Linked DNA regions of Homo sapiens. The protein of the gene in region 2 purifies or fractionates together with the protein of the main gene of each other region. This does not show direct contact. Each region holds a gene or a part of one and is shown on either strand. Other genes may lie near its edges.

The links. The genes of interacting proteins can lie anywhere in the genome.
Region 1: the proteins of LRRC52 (region 2) and DIPK1B purify together in Homo sapiens (affinity purification with mass spectrometry; one large-scale study listed by BioGRID and IntAct). This does not show direct contact.
Region 3: the proteins of LRRC52 (region 2) and ILDR2 purify together in Homo sapiens (co-immunoprecipitation; one large-scale study listed by IntAct). This does not show direct contact.
Region 4: the proteins of LRRC52 (region 2) and DIPK1A purify together in Homo sapiens (affinity purification with mass spectrometry; one large-scale study listed by BioGRID and IntAct). This does not show direct contact.

Annotation. Positions count from the first base shown.
Region 1 is NC_000009.12:136,715,572-136,719,071, forward strand, and holds part of DIPK1B (divergent protein kinase domain 1B), read left to right. Parts: intron 1-1,710; exon of another isoform or gene 1,711-2,005; coding exon 2,006-2,140; exon of another isoform or gene 2,141-3,500.
Region 2 is NC_000001.11:165,547,000-165,550,499, forward strand, and holds part of LRRC52 (leucine-rich repeat-containing protein 52 precursor), read left to right. Parts: intron 1-3,500. UniProt on the Homo sapiens protein: Auxiliary protein of the large-conductance, voltage and calcium-activated potassium channel (BK alpha).
Region 3 is NC_000001.11:166,920,041-166,923,540, reverse strand, and holds part of ILDR2 (immunoglobulin-like domain-containing receptor 2 isoform 1 precursor), read left to right. Parts: intron 1-348; coding exon of another isoform or gene 349-350; exon of another isoform or gene 351-440; intron 441-731; coding exon 732-948; intron 949-1,090; coding exon of another isoform or gene 1,091-1,169; exon of another isoform or gene 1,170-1,310; intron 1,311-2,161; coding exon 2,162-2,834; coding exon of another isoform or gene 2,835-2,873; exon of another isoform or gene 2,874-3,500. UniProt on the Homo sapiens protein: May be involved in ER stress pathways with effects on lipid homeostasis and insulin secretion. With ILDR1 and LSR, involved in the maintain of the epithelial barrier function through the recruitment of MARVELD2/tricellulin to tricellular tight junctions.
Region 4 is NC_000001.11:92,877,963-92,881,462, reverse strand, and holds part of DIPK1A (divergent protein kinase domain 1A), read left to right. Parts: intron 1-3,500.

The DNA.
Region 1 (3,500 bases), on a different chromosome or scaffold from region 2:
TGGCGCCATCTCAGCTCACCACAACCTCTGCCTCCCGGGTTCAAGCGATTCTCCTGCCTCAGTCTCCCAAGTAGCTGGGATTACAGGCATGCGCCACCATGCCTGGCTAATTTTGTATTTTTAGTAGGGATGGCGTTCCTCCCTGTTGGTCAGGCTGGTCTCCAACTCCCGACCTCAGGTGATCTGCCTGCCTCGGCCTCCCAAAGTTCTGGGATTACAGGGGTGAGCCACCACGCCCGACCTTAATTTTTAACTGCGGTAAGATACACATGGCATAAAGTGTATCATCTTAACCCTGTTTAAGGGCACAGTTTAGTGGTCACCTCCCTCTGTCCGCAGAGCTCTCCGCCTTCCCAAACTGAAGCTCTGTCTGCATCAAACGCACACTCCCAGTCCCTTCCCAGCCCGCGGCTCCCTCTACTCTCCTTCCTGTCTCTATGGTTTTGGCGACTCTGGGGACCTCGTGTAAGTGGGTCCTGCAGGATTTGTGCTTTGGTGACGGGCTCGTTTCACTGAGCCTCTTGTCCTGGGGCTCCTCCCTTCTGGGTGGACATCAGATCTCCTTCCTTCTCAGGACACAGTCACTCCGCAGTGTGGATAGGATAGACGCAGCTGCTCTTCCATCCCCCGGCTGTGAACTTAAGGACTGCCCACCCCTGGGCTGTTGTGAACATCGGTGTCTGAGTCTGTGTCTTTTTTTTTTTTTTTTTTTTTTGAGACAGGGTCTCGCTTTCTCACCCAGGCTGGAGTGTAGCGTGGGGTCACAGCTCACTGCAGCTTCAACCTCCCGGGTTCAATCAATCCTCCAGCCTCAGCCTCCCAAGTAGCTGGGACTACAGGCGTGAGTCACCATGTCCAGCTAATTTTTGTATTTTTAGTAGAGATGGGGTTTTGCCATGTTGCCCAGGCTGGTCTCGAACTCCTGAGCTCAAGCAAGCCACCCACCTCAGCCTCCCAAAGAGCTGGGATCACAGGGTGAGCCACCGCACCCAGCTAATTTTTGTATTTTTGTAGAGGCGGGGTTTCCCTATGTTGCCCAGGATGGTCTCAAACTCCTGGGCTCAAGCAATCTGCCCGCCTCAGCCTCCCCGAGTGCTGGGTTTACAGGGTGAGCCACCATGCCCGGCCCGCCTGCGTCTCTTAAAGGCTTCCAGGATGTGGCTGCGTTGGGCTCCTAGGGCCCCGTTCTCCAAACCTGGTTCTCCTTGTGGGTCTGGTCCGGCCGGAACTTCCCACCAATCTGCATTACGGTGGACGGTGGGAAAAATAGGGGCAGTGTCTCTCGCGGTGGGCGCGCTCACCTGGCCTTGTGCGGAGGTGACGATGTTATGAAATGAGATCAGGATAGGAAGGGTTTGTAAAAATATCTTCATTCGGCCAGGCACAGTGGCTCACACCTGTAATCCCAGCACTTTGGGAGGCCAAGGCAGGTAGATCACCTGAGGTCCGGAGTTCAAGACCAGCCTAGTCAACATGGTGAAACCCCGTCTCTACTAAAAATACAAAAATTAGCTGGTCGTGGTGGTGCATGCCTGTAGTCCCAGTTACTCGGGAGGCTGACGCAGGAGAATCACTTGAACCCGGGAGGCAGAGGTTGCAGTGAGCCGAGATCGCGCCACTGCACTCCAGCCTGGGCTACAGAGTAAGACTCCCTCTCAAAAAAAAAAAAAAAATTTCATTCAGCAGAGGAAAGAATCGGCCACCCTGTAGTCCCCTGGTTTTGACATTTATTTGTACCTGCCCATAACACTGAAAAGTCTGGGCAGCGCCTGCCCCCACCTCCGGCCCCTGCAGCCCCTGGTATGTGACCCTGGAGAGGCAGAGCCAGGAGTGGGTGTCGCTGAGCTGGGGGTGATTCTAGAAGACGGGGGTGCCAGGGGGCCAAGGGGATGGCAGGGGAAGGCTGGGGTGGATCCGGAGGCCCTTCCTGTGGGAAGTGGGGTTGAGAGCACCCTGAGCCTGGGTGCCCCGAGGGCACCTCCTCACGCAGCCCCTTCCCCCACAGGGCCGGCTCCCAGGCCTCAGGGTCCGCTGCATCTTCCTGGCCTGGCTGGGCGTCTTTGCAGGCAGCTGGCTGGTGTACGTGCACTACTCGTCCTACTCGGAGCGCTGTCGCGGCCATGTCTGCCAGGTGGTCATTGTAAGTGTTGCTTGTGCGGGCTGGGGACTGGGCCGTGCCCCCTGCTGCCCAAGATGCTGGGGCACCAGGCCCTGGAGACACCTTCCTCCCCAGACCCAGGGCCCACGAGGCACGTGGGTTTCTAGGTGGAATCTGCAAAGCTGCCTCAGGCTGGGTGTGGAGGACAGGGGTCCAGGGGAGGACGGGGGAGACGTGCGGGGCTGCCTCAGGCTGGGTGTGGAGGATGGGGGTCCAGAGGAGGATGGGGGAGACGTGGGGGCTGGGGGCAGAAGGCAGGGCAGACTCCAGAAATCTTTGGGAGGGAGGATGTTTAGCAGGAAGCCTGGGGTGGGCAGCTGGCCTCACTGCTCCGGGATAGAGACCCCCGTGTGGTGTCCTCACTGGATGGGATAGAGACCCCCGTGTGCTGGCCTCACTGGTCCAGGATAGCGACCCCCGTGTGCTGGCCTCACTGGCCTGGGATAGAGACCACCGTGTGCTGGCCTCACTGGTCCAGGATAGAGACCACTGTGTGCTGGCCTCACTGGTCCGGGATAGAGACCCCCGTGTGCTGGCCTCACTGGTCCGGGATAGAGACCCCCGTGTGCTGGCCTTAGTGGCCTCGCTAGCCCCCCTGGGACCAGGGGTCCCCTGAGGCAGGTGGCAGGGCAAGGTCCTCCACAGCCTCCACCTCAGGGAGATAGGGCTAAGTCCCCTGGCGTATGTGAGCATGTGTGTGTCTGGGAGCAAACGTGTCCACATGAGTGCACACCAAGGTGACCCCCTGCCCCTCTCCACACCCTGTGACTAGCTCAGAGGGGAGGTCATCCCAGCTCTGTCTTCCTGGCAAACCCTAGACTCGCCCAGAACTGGGCAGGTCCCCCACTGAATTTTGACCCCAGGCTGCCCGATGACCAGGGTTCCGATGCCTCCACTCCCCTTGGGGTCAGGCCTGGGCATAGAAGGATCTGGCCTGTAGCAGCGGCCACTGTGGGTTGTCATAGGGTGATTGGGTGCAGGGAGACCCCAGGTTCGGTGTCTCCTCCGTCAGATGGGGAGAGCACCTCTCCTGGCAACTGGGTGGTGGATGAAGCTAGCCGGGTGGGCCTGGGCAGGCCTGTGTCCCACAGAGCCATGTCTGACGGGGGCCACATGTGGAAAGGCCCAGATGTGGCAGTGGAGGACTGGGGTGTGGGGTCCGGAGCTAGGAGAGCTTCTGTGCCCAGGACTTGTTTGGAGCCCATGCCAGCCCAGGGGAGGCCTCCGGGCCCCTGGACCAGGCCTTGCTCACCCTTGAAGTCCAGGGGGCCTCTGAGCCCAGCAGGGCCGGAGGGTGGCACATGGGGCTCGTCCTGGGGCCATGGGTGGGGAAGGCTGTGCC
Region 2 (3,500 bases):
ACTGCTAATTTGCTCATCTCCCTCCATTTTTCCACACATGGTACCTCATTTCCTTTAGCATGAGTGTCACACCAACACTTAAACTTGTGCCCTCAGCCTGTGGAAGAGTCTAGGATTGGTATTTTTAACCCTATCCTTGGATGAGAAAATAGACTCACCTGCCCAAAATCACACAGCTGATAAATGGCAAGAAAGTGACTTGAACCCCTTGATTTCAAATGCAGGTCTTTTTCCACAAGACTATACTATCTCGTAAATCCTCAAATTACATAACTATCATCCTGTAAGTGAGTTTAGTTATAAATATAAGTTATATTATAAACATATGGCTACAGCATCTAAACTTCAGCTTTATTTTCTATCTGGCTGCCGCTTGGAACTGGGAAATGATCTTGAGATCATTTTCATTGGATAATAAGCACTAACCGTCATAAATCCATTGATATGCCTGTACTTCCCTTGCAAACCCAGGTTTCACCCCAGTCTACCCCAACTCCAAAAGGGTGAATCTAACCTTAGCATTTGCTCTCATTTGGGCCTTAATCAGTCTGGTTCTTCCTTCCCATACACACATACAATCACAAATATGCACACAAACACACATGCAAACACAAATACCTACACACACATATGCAAACACAAAGGTTTGTATATACCATATATACATATGTTCATACCATATATAAATACATACTTACATACCCACACGTATATACCATTTATACATACATACCTACTTACGTACCCATCCACATATTACATACACACACATAAATGTACAAGTTCACACTCATATACATGAACAGATACATGCATACCCATAAAGTTGAACACACATACAGTAAAATTCATTAGCTGCTTCTCTTGCCTTCTAGCCAAACCTCAATGTAAGGAAAGGTATTTAATTCATTTGACTCTCAAATGATGGTTCATGGTCTCTGCTACGTGGAAATATCTTTGCTATTGGCAAACATTCTTGGTGAAGTTTCAAACTTAAGCCCACCTATTTATACCACATTTGTTATCAAAATGGTGATCTTTGACATATTCTAGCATGGAGCCCATGTATCTCTCTACATATATCCACATTTCAGGAGATAGGAAGATTTCTATGAAATAACCTGAGTTATCTGGTGTTTATAAAACAGAATCCATTTCACAAACAGACTCATTTTAGGCCCAAGGAAATACTGAACCTTAGCCCTGGGAAATTTTCACTGTAGTGTAATATTAAGGGCAATATGAGAGTGCATATATATTCCTTGAAAAGCAATGCAGTGAAGTAAAGGACTTCCATGCTACAATTCAGTTCATCCATTTATCTATTTAAATACTTATTGAGTGCCTACTATGTGCCAAACAAGTGCTCATGAAGGTAACTAACCAAGAAACCTGAGGTTGCATATGGAGACTTACGTAACTCTAGGTCATCTGTGCCATATCTATGTCATAGTTTAGTTGTGCATAACAGAACAAAACAGGGCAGGACAAACGAGGCCAGCATGTGCCTGCTGGGGTGACAGGCACTTGGGGCAGCCACTTGTCCTCCAAGAGATGAAGGACAGTCACCCTCAGGCAGCAGAGCCCAGTGTTAAGAGCTCAGGTTCTGTAATAAAATTGACGGGTTATAATTCTAGCCCTGATGCTGACTATCTGCAGGATATAAGATAAGTTACTTAACCTCTCTGAACTTTAATTTCCTCATCTTGAATACAAGGATAATAATAGAACCAACATTCCTAGGGCTGTCATAAAATGAAATGAGAACATTTATGAAGTACCATTAGCATTTAAGTTTGACACACCATAAGCAATCAAAAAACAAATGGTTGGTAGATGAGGAAAGGTACAGGATACTAAGAGAGTAGAATACCAGAAAGCAGTCAAGTGTTCCCCTAGATAAGCAGTGGACTTCAGGAAGGCTCAGCATACGTGGTGTTAGAGGACAACGCACCCTGTCTAGAAATATGACTATAGAGATGCAGGCGGGAATATAGATAGAATGTGGGAAGGTGGGTAGCTGCTTCTAAGACTCTAATCCATACAAAAATGGGGCAAGGAGAATCCTGGAGGGACAGGACAAGTCTATGTCACATTCTGACTAAGTTGGGTATTATTAGATAAGTTAAGAACATGGGTTTTCAGACCCTAAGGAACAAAAGCAGAAGCTCAAATCAAGACTTTGTCTCAGCCTGGGCCATGAGACTTGGGGCTGGACCAGCAGCAGCAGGGTGCCTGTTCCTGAGTCACCTGAACCTAGAACCAAAGCTCTACCTAAAGACAAGCTCCACTTCCAGAGGCAGGTGTGGATGTGTAGACTACATTCTAGGGATGTGTAGGCAACTTTCTCTAGCCTCAGGAGAAAGACTTCACCTACATGGTATAACTGAGCAATAAATACTTTTGCCCCAATGTGTCCCTATCCACTTCCTACCACTAAGCTGAAATTAGTCACTAGAGGTTCATCCTTTTGGGTCCCAATTATGTGTTATGATCTTGAAAAAGAAACTGCAAAAATACATGAACTCCTGGGAAGAATAAGACAAGTGTCCTTAAGCCTTTATCAGCTCTCATATCAGAAGGAGGAGTTAATTCTTGGGAATTTGATTAGCTAAGATTAATTCTGCAGCAGTGGAGAACCTTGAAGGAAACAGAGGTGCAAGAAGGAAGTGGAGAGGTCTTAAAAGAAAAGACATGAGGGCAATATCATACGCTTCTTCAAAAAATGTGCCACATTTTTGCTAAGGACCTCCCCCATAGAGGGGTTGTAGAGGAAGCCCAGTGTTTCATTCATTTTATTTTATCATAAGGCTACACTGAACAAGAATATCAAAACTTTCTCAAGTTGGCGAGATCTGGCACCATAATCAAAGGTCTGATTCAAAAGAAACTCTCCAATGGCATACTCACCAGATGTACTGAAAAGTATTCAGTTCTCAAAGAGTTAATGTAGTCATTTTTTTAAACACGAAAGTTACAGCAGAAATGGAGGTGTGTTGTAATGTGTCCCTTGCTAGGGTGCTCTATTGAGCCCTGACCAATACAGACTGAAAACAGACCCACACATTCCATTTCCTTTCTGGCCCAGGTTAGCAAGTGGGAGGACTAATTCCTGGCCAGCACTGTTATTTTCCAGTCATTAATGCTACTTGAAGGTGAGAGTGGTCATTGAGTTCTTCCCAGGATATTTGATTTCCCTCAGGGGACAGGGTTGAATGGCTTTCAGGAGGCTCTCGAAAACTCACTCAAACTCTAAGCTCCAAAACATACAAAACCTAGCCTCATACATCCCATTCCCCTCTACCCGCAAAGTCTGCTCTAATGCTGTCCAATAGAAGTTTCTGCAACAGGGTAAATAGTCTATATATATGGTGTCGGATACAGTAGTCACTAGCCGCATGTGGCCATTGAGCTCTTGAAATTTGGCTAGAACAAATGAACTGAATTTTTATTTTATTTTATTTCAATACATTTAAATAGCCACCTAAGGCTACTGGCTA
Region 3 (3,500 bases), 1.4 Mb from region 2:
ACATACCCCTGGAAAACTTTTTTGGGAGAGGGGAAGAGGTCTGCCCAAGTGCTGGAAGTAGGCTTGGTGCTACTTGAGCAGGATCTTCCAGGTTCCTAAATGAGCATGGGCTAAGTCAGGGGGTATATGGATACTAGGTACAGGTTTCCCCTTGACTATTCAACTATTCTGTGGACTTCCTGCTCTGTGGGGAGGGGCACAGCCAAAGGAGGCCAGAATGCAGTGCCTCTACAGCATATGGCAGTACTGGCTCTGAAGGTCCATCTTAGGACTGGGCCAGCAGTAAGGAAGATGCTGTGATCTATGGCTTCTGTCTCTCTTTTTCTGTTTTTGGCTTAACATGTCTAGGATCAACACAGCTCATCACAGAATTATAAAGGAAGAAGAAAACATTTGAACAAGGATGATGATGTACTAGGAGGAGGCCAGCAACAGAGATCCTGAGTTCTGGAAAGCCTGCCTTAGGTGCAACAATAACAAACTTGTTCTCCTATTCCAAGAACAGAGCATGTAGGAACCTCCCTCTCTGTAAGCAAGTAGGCTTCAAACTGGAGCCAATGCCTGCTGAGCTAAGAATACAAACACCACTAGTTCAGGCTTACAACCCACCCTGGACAGCAATGAGGCAGGAGTTTCCTGGAGCCTAGGGTCTCAGCCCTTAACAGGATTCTCTTCCTGTCTAAAACAGAGTAACACAAAAAGCTCTATCATGCCTGATTTTGTCCCTGCAGATAACAACACCATCTCAGAACTCAGCTCCCTACATGAGGAGGACAGCAATTTCCGCCAGTCTTTCCATCAGATGAGAAGCAAGCAGTTCCCTGTGTCTGGGGACTTGGAGAGCAATCCTGACTATTGGTCAGGTGTCATGGGAGGCAGCAGTGGGGCAAGCCGCGGGCCCTCAGCCATGGAGTATAACAAAGAGGATCGAGAGAGCTTCAGGCACAGGTGATGGCTGTGAGGGGCAGGTCTGGTCGGTGTGAGGGGGCAGGAGCTGGAAGGCAGGGTAGATCGGAGGCAAGGAAGATGCCATCCAGTAGCATCTCTGTCTCCCATTCCAGGTTATCCTGACACATCTCTCTTTCTACAGGATATTGAACATCTCACATTTGTCAAGACAGGGAACACTTGTGACAACATGTGTAGAAGTAATTATTCAAGACCTTTGAAATGGGTCCCCTAGACCCTTTAATGAACATTAATATATCTCTGCCCTTCTCATATATTTTATCCTATAACCTCTACAAAATCCCACCCATCATCTCCATCTTTTTTTTGTTTTTTTCGGTAGAGACAGGGTTTTGCCACGTTGACAGACTGGTCTTGAACTCCTGAGCTCAAGCGATCCACCCACCTTGGCCTCCCAAAGTGCTGGGATTACAGGCATGAGCCATCATGCCTGGCCATCTCCCTCATTTTTGATCATTTAGTATATGAAAGGTAAAATGCCAAACACTTCTCTTACATTTAATTCTCATAACTCTAAAGGGCAGCTACTATTAATGCCCCTATTTTAAGCTGGGAAAATGGAAACTTCTAGGTGCTAAGGCACTTACCCAGGTGATGTGGCCTCCCACAACAATTGTGGGAGGCTAAGATTTGCTATTCCCCCTAAATAGCACCTTCACCACTCATCTGTCCTTTACCTTAAAAGACAGTGAACATTGCCTTTCCCTTACAAATTGCAAGTGTCCTTCTCCCCTCCTGCCCCAGTAGGTAACTTGGCCCTTGGCTCTGAGGGAAGAAAAGGCCTCTCTGTGTGTCACCACACATTACAGGGACTCCTGGGACCATAACTGTGTGTACTGACACCTGCGCTGGCTTTGAGGGTGGAGACGTGTGGCTGTCAACCCGAGGTCACAACATAATGACCAGAAGGCAGCCCCACGGTGGGTCAGTATTCCATAGGATACAGAATATGTTCTATCCACACAACCCCATTTTGATGCGTGGCACACGAGTGGAATAGACTCGGTTGCCCCTACTTGACGTTCTGGGGTGTGAGAGGAGCCTGGAATGCTTCATCCAGCCTGGAGCGGAGCTGAGGCTCAGGCCGAGGTCTCCTGAGCGTGGCCCCAGGACACGATGGGTGCTCTTGGGAGCCCTACCTGGAGCTCCAGGGAGGGACCGGCCGTCTGACCCCCTCCTTCTCTGCCCGCAGCCAGCCGCGCTCCAAGTCGGAGATGCTGTCGCGGAAGAACTTCGCCACGGGGGTGCCGGCCGTTTCCATGGACGAGCTGGCGGCCTTCGCTGACTCCTACGGCCAGCGGCCCCGCCGGGCAGACGGCAACAGTCACGAGGCGCGGGGCGGGAGCCGCTTCGAGCGCTCGGAGTCGCGGGCGCACAGCGGCTTCTACCAGGACGACTCCTTGGAGGAGTACTACGGTCAGCGCAGCCGCAGCCGCGAGCCCCTGACCGATGCTGACCGCGGCTGGGCCTTCAGCCCCGCGCGCCGCAGACCCGCCGAGGACGCGCACCTGCCGCGGCTGGTGAGCCGCACGCCAGGCACCGCACCCAAATACGACCACTCGTACCTGGGCAGCGCGCGGGAGCGCCAGGCGCGGCCCGAGGGCGCCAGCCGCGGTGGCAGCCTGGAGACGCCATCCAAGCGGAGCGCGCAGCTCGGCCCGCGCAGCGCCTCCTACTACGCTTGGTCGCCGCCCGGCACCTACAAGGCCGGCTCGTCGCAGGACGACCAGGAGGACGCGTCCGACGACGCGCTGCCGCCCTACAGCGAGCTGGAGCTGACCCGCGGCCCGTCCTACCGCGGCCGCGACCTGCCCTACCACAGCAACTCGGAGAAGAAGAGGAAAAAGGAGCCCGCCAAGAAAACCGTGAGACTGCGTCTGCCTCCCCTCCTCCGAGGGGACTGAGCGGGAGCCTCCAGGCAGGGCGAGCAGTGTCGCTGTCTGGGGGCCGGGGAGGTGGCGAGGCGGGAGGGTCCTTGCCGGAGAGGCCGCAGGGGCCTGCCTGGGCGAGTTCGTCCGCGGATGCTAGGCCGGGGGCTTTTTCAGCCTCACTCTGTCCAAGGCCAGATGAAGGAAGGAAGCAAGGGCTGGGAGAGTTGAAAAACAGGCAGAAAGTTGAAGGCGTGTATATGGTTTTACAGGGAGCATTAGGTATTTAACCAACTCAGAAGCCTTTAGCATCAGGGATCTCGGGAGCCATCACCACCACCGGCCTTTAGTGGGCTTCTGAGGTCTGTGTGCAGAATCTTCGATGCATCCTTCTATGTGCATTCCTCCCCAGCCCTGCTTGGGGCGAGGGTTTGTAACTTGCATCCGATTTCCAAGAACCCACATCCCAGAGAAGGCTAAGAGCCACTGCTGTTTGCAAAGGACAACTCATGTCTGTCCTCTTTTGATGTTTTATTGAGTGTAAACTGCATTGTGCCCGTATATGTGAAGGAAATCCTTTGGTCCCTATCCAGTTCATTGTCTCTTTTGTAAGTGGTCTTATATAGACTTCATTATTTTCAAAATGCCAAGAGCTGCCTACTC
Region 4 (3,500 bases), about 73 Mb from region 2:
TAAAATCTTTAAACTTGAGATCAAAGAATAATTCAGATTCTTTCTATAAATCCTAAAATTCACCTCTTAAAAAGATTAAGAATGCTAAAACTCTGACCAGTAGACTCATAATGCCTTTTTTTTTTTTTTTTTTTTTGAGACAGAGTCCCCATTCTCAAAATTAAGAACATTTGTGTATGGAGTATTTAGGGGTAAAGTAAAAGGACTTTGTGCTTTACATGTTTATGAAAGATGCAGAGTATTAAAAATAGATAATAGAAGTAGCCTTTTTTTTTTTTTTTTTTTTTTTTGAGACCGAGTCTCGCTCTGTCACCCAGGCTGGAGTGCAGTGGCATGATCTCGGCTCACTACAACCTCCACCTCCCGGGTTCAAGCGATTCTCCTGCCTCAGCCTCCCGAGTAGCTGTGATTACAGGCTCCCGCCACCACACCCAGCTAATTTTATGGGTTTCAGTGTGTTGGCCAGGCTGGTCTCGAACTCCTGACCTCATGATCCGCCTGCCTCAGCCTCCCAAAGTGCTGAGATTACAAGCGTGAGCCACCGCGCCCCGCCAGAAGTAGTTTTTTTGTTTGTTTGTTTGTTTGTTTGTTTGGAGACGGAGTCTCGCTCTGTTGCCCAGGCTGGAGTGCAGTGATGCGATCTCAGCTCAAGGCAACCTCTGCCTCCCGAGTTCAAGCGATTCTCCTGTCCCAGCCTCCCAAGTGGCTGGGATTACAGGTGCACGCCACCACGCCCAGCCAATTTTTTTTGTATTTTTAGTAGAGACAGGGTTTCAGCATATTGGCCAGGATGGGCTCTATCCTTTGGCTCCATGATCCTCCCACCTCAGCCTCCCAAAGTGCTGGGATAACAGGCGTGAGCCACCGCGTGGCCAGAAGTAGTCTTAAATGGCTAAATTTTGGTTGTTGCCTCTTTCTGCCTATTTTTAAAACTTAATGTAAAGTTACAAACAAGATCAAAAATTTTCAGATTTGTTTTGAAATAAGTTATCACAATGAAATCAAACGATATTTTAAAAGAAGAAAAACTATTACTATTTTTTAGAGTAGAATTGGCATTTTGTGTCATCGTGGGCTTACAATAAAATATTGGCAATCATTTACTCTAGTGATAACTGCTTCTGTTATTTCCAGACAGATGTTATTATATTTTTAAAATTACTAATATTTTATGCATTAAAGGCTAATATAAGATAAAATGCTAATGTCATACAAATTTAGCTCTTTCAACCCCACAGTTTTTGTTTTCATTTTATTGTGTAACTGTAAGTTTCTCAAACACATTTTGGGCCTGATAATGCTTTGCTGTGGGGGGCTACATTGTACATTGCAGGATGTTTAGCAGCATCTCTGGCTGCTACCCCACAAGATTTCAGTAGCAGCCTCCAGTTGGGAAACCAAACATGTCTCCAGACATTGCCAAGTGTCCCCTGTGGGGCAAAACTAAGTCCATTTGAGAATCACTGCCATAGTGTATTTACAAAAATTCTTATCATGCTTTTCAGGAACAAAATTAGGAAAAAAGCAACATACCATTACTAGCTAGGCACACAATCTGCCGAACAAAAAACTGCTGGGCAGTCATTGTGAATAGTTCAGCATAAATAAAAAGGTCAGACTACATTTCTTAATCAAAGACTACATTATCTAGGTAATTGGTACAGAACAGACCACTAGAAACATTTTAGTGAGTGGCACACAGGGAAATTAAATTGGTTAATAGCTACAGATGTAATTTATGGCTCTTTCTTCAATCATTATTTTTAAATGTGAGGCTGCAGGATCTGCAGATATTAAAGGACGCATGAAGGTCCTTTTACTACTTTGTGTTACCCCCAAATCACAGCAATTCTCAATGGCATGCTGAAAGAAAAAGGTGTCTCACTCCTTTTATCATTTTGTCTACAACAGGTGATGCCCAGTGCCCTGCTGGGAACATCATCAATCTAACTTCCTCTCAAAAATGTTTGGCATTCTTTGTCATGACAAGTAGGCATCGGGCAGTCCAGTTCATAGGGTTTTTCTCCATTTAAACATATGCCAGAGGAAGTAGAAAAACGTAGCTATTTGATAGGTAGAGAAAAGAAAAATATTTAAATATTGTCACAGAACCATTATCACACCTTAAAAAACTAAAATAATCCTTTACTATCATCAAGTATACTGTCATTCTTAAAATTTTCAATTGTCTTATAAATGTCATTTTTTACAGGTTTTCATTTGAATCAGGACTCAAAAAAGATACATGTGTTGTAATTATTTGATATATTTCTCTCTTTTTTTGCAACAGGGTCTCTCTGTGTCACCCAGGCTGTAGTGCAGTGGTGCGATCTTGGCTCACTGCAACCTCTGCCTCCCAGGCTCAAGCAATCCTCTCACCCTAGCCTCCCAAATAGCTGGGACTACAGGCATGAGCCACTATGCTTGGCTAATTTTTATTTTTATTTTTATTTTTTGAGATGGAGTCTTGCTCTGTCACCCAGGTTGGAATGCAGTGGCACAATCTCGGCTCACTGCAACCTCCGCCCCCCAGGTTCAAGCAGTTTTCCTGCCTCAGCCTCCTGAGTAGCTGGGATTACAGGTGCATGCCACCACACTCGGCTAATTTTTGTTTGTTTGTTTGTTTGTTTGTTTGTTTGTTTTTGAGACAGAGTCTCGCTGTCGCCCAGGCTGGAGTGCAGTGGTGCGATCTCGGCTCACTGCAGGCTCCGCCCCCCGGGGTTCACGCTATTCTCCTGCCTCAGACTCCCGAGTAGCTGGGACTACAGGCCCCCGCCACCTCGCCCGGCTAATTTTTTGTATTTTTAGTAGAGATGGGGTTTCACCGTGTTAGCCAGGATGGTCTCGATCTCCTGACCTCGTGATCCGCCCACCTCGGCCTCCCAAAGTGCTGGGATTACAGGTGTGAGCCACTGCGCCTGGCCTAATTTTTGTATTTTTAGTATAGGCGGGGTTTTACCATGTTGGCCAGGCTGGTCTTGAACTCCTCACCTCAAGTTGTTCGCCTGTCTTGGCCTCCCGAAGTTCTGGGATTACAGGCGTGAGCTCCTGGCTGGCCTTGGCTAATTTTTAAATTTTTTCATAGAGACAATGTCTCACTATATTGTCCAGACTGATCTCAAATTCCTATACTTAAGTGATTCTCCTACCTCAGCCTCCGAAAGTGCTGGGATTACAGATCTAGCCTAATATATATCTTAAATGATTTTTAATCTTTAAGTTTCCCCTTGCCTTTTTTTCCCTTCTTGTAATTTATTTGTTGAAGAAACTGGATTGTTTGTATTGCAGTGTTTCCCACAGCCTGGAGTTTGCTGATTATATCCTTATAGTGTCACTTACTTAAGTGTCACTTGTGTTTCTCTGTCTCATGTATTTCCTGTAAACTGGTAGCTGGAGCTAAAAGGCTTGATCAGATTCAGATTCAGTTTTCTTTTTGGCAAGTCCGAAAAGAAGATGATAGCCACTGACAGTATTGTTGGCTTCTTGCCCAGTGACTTGCA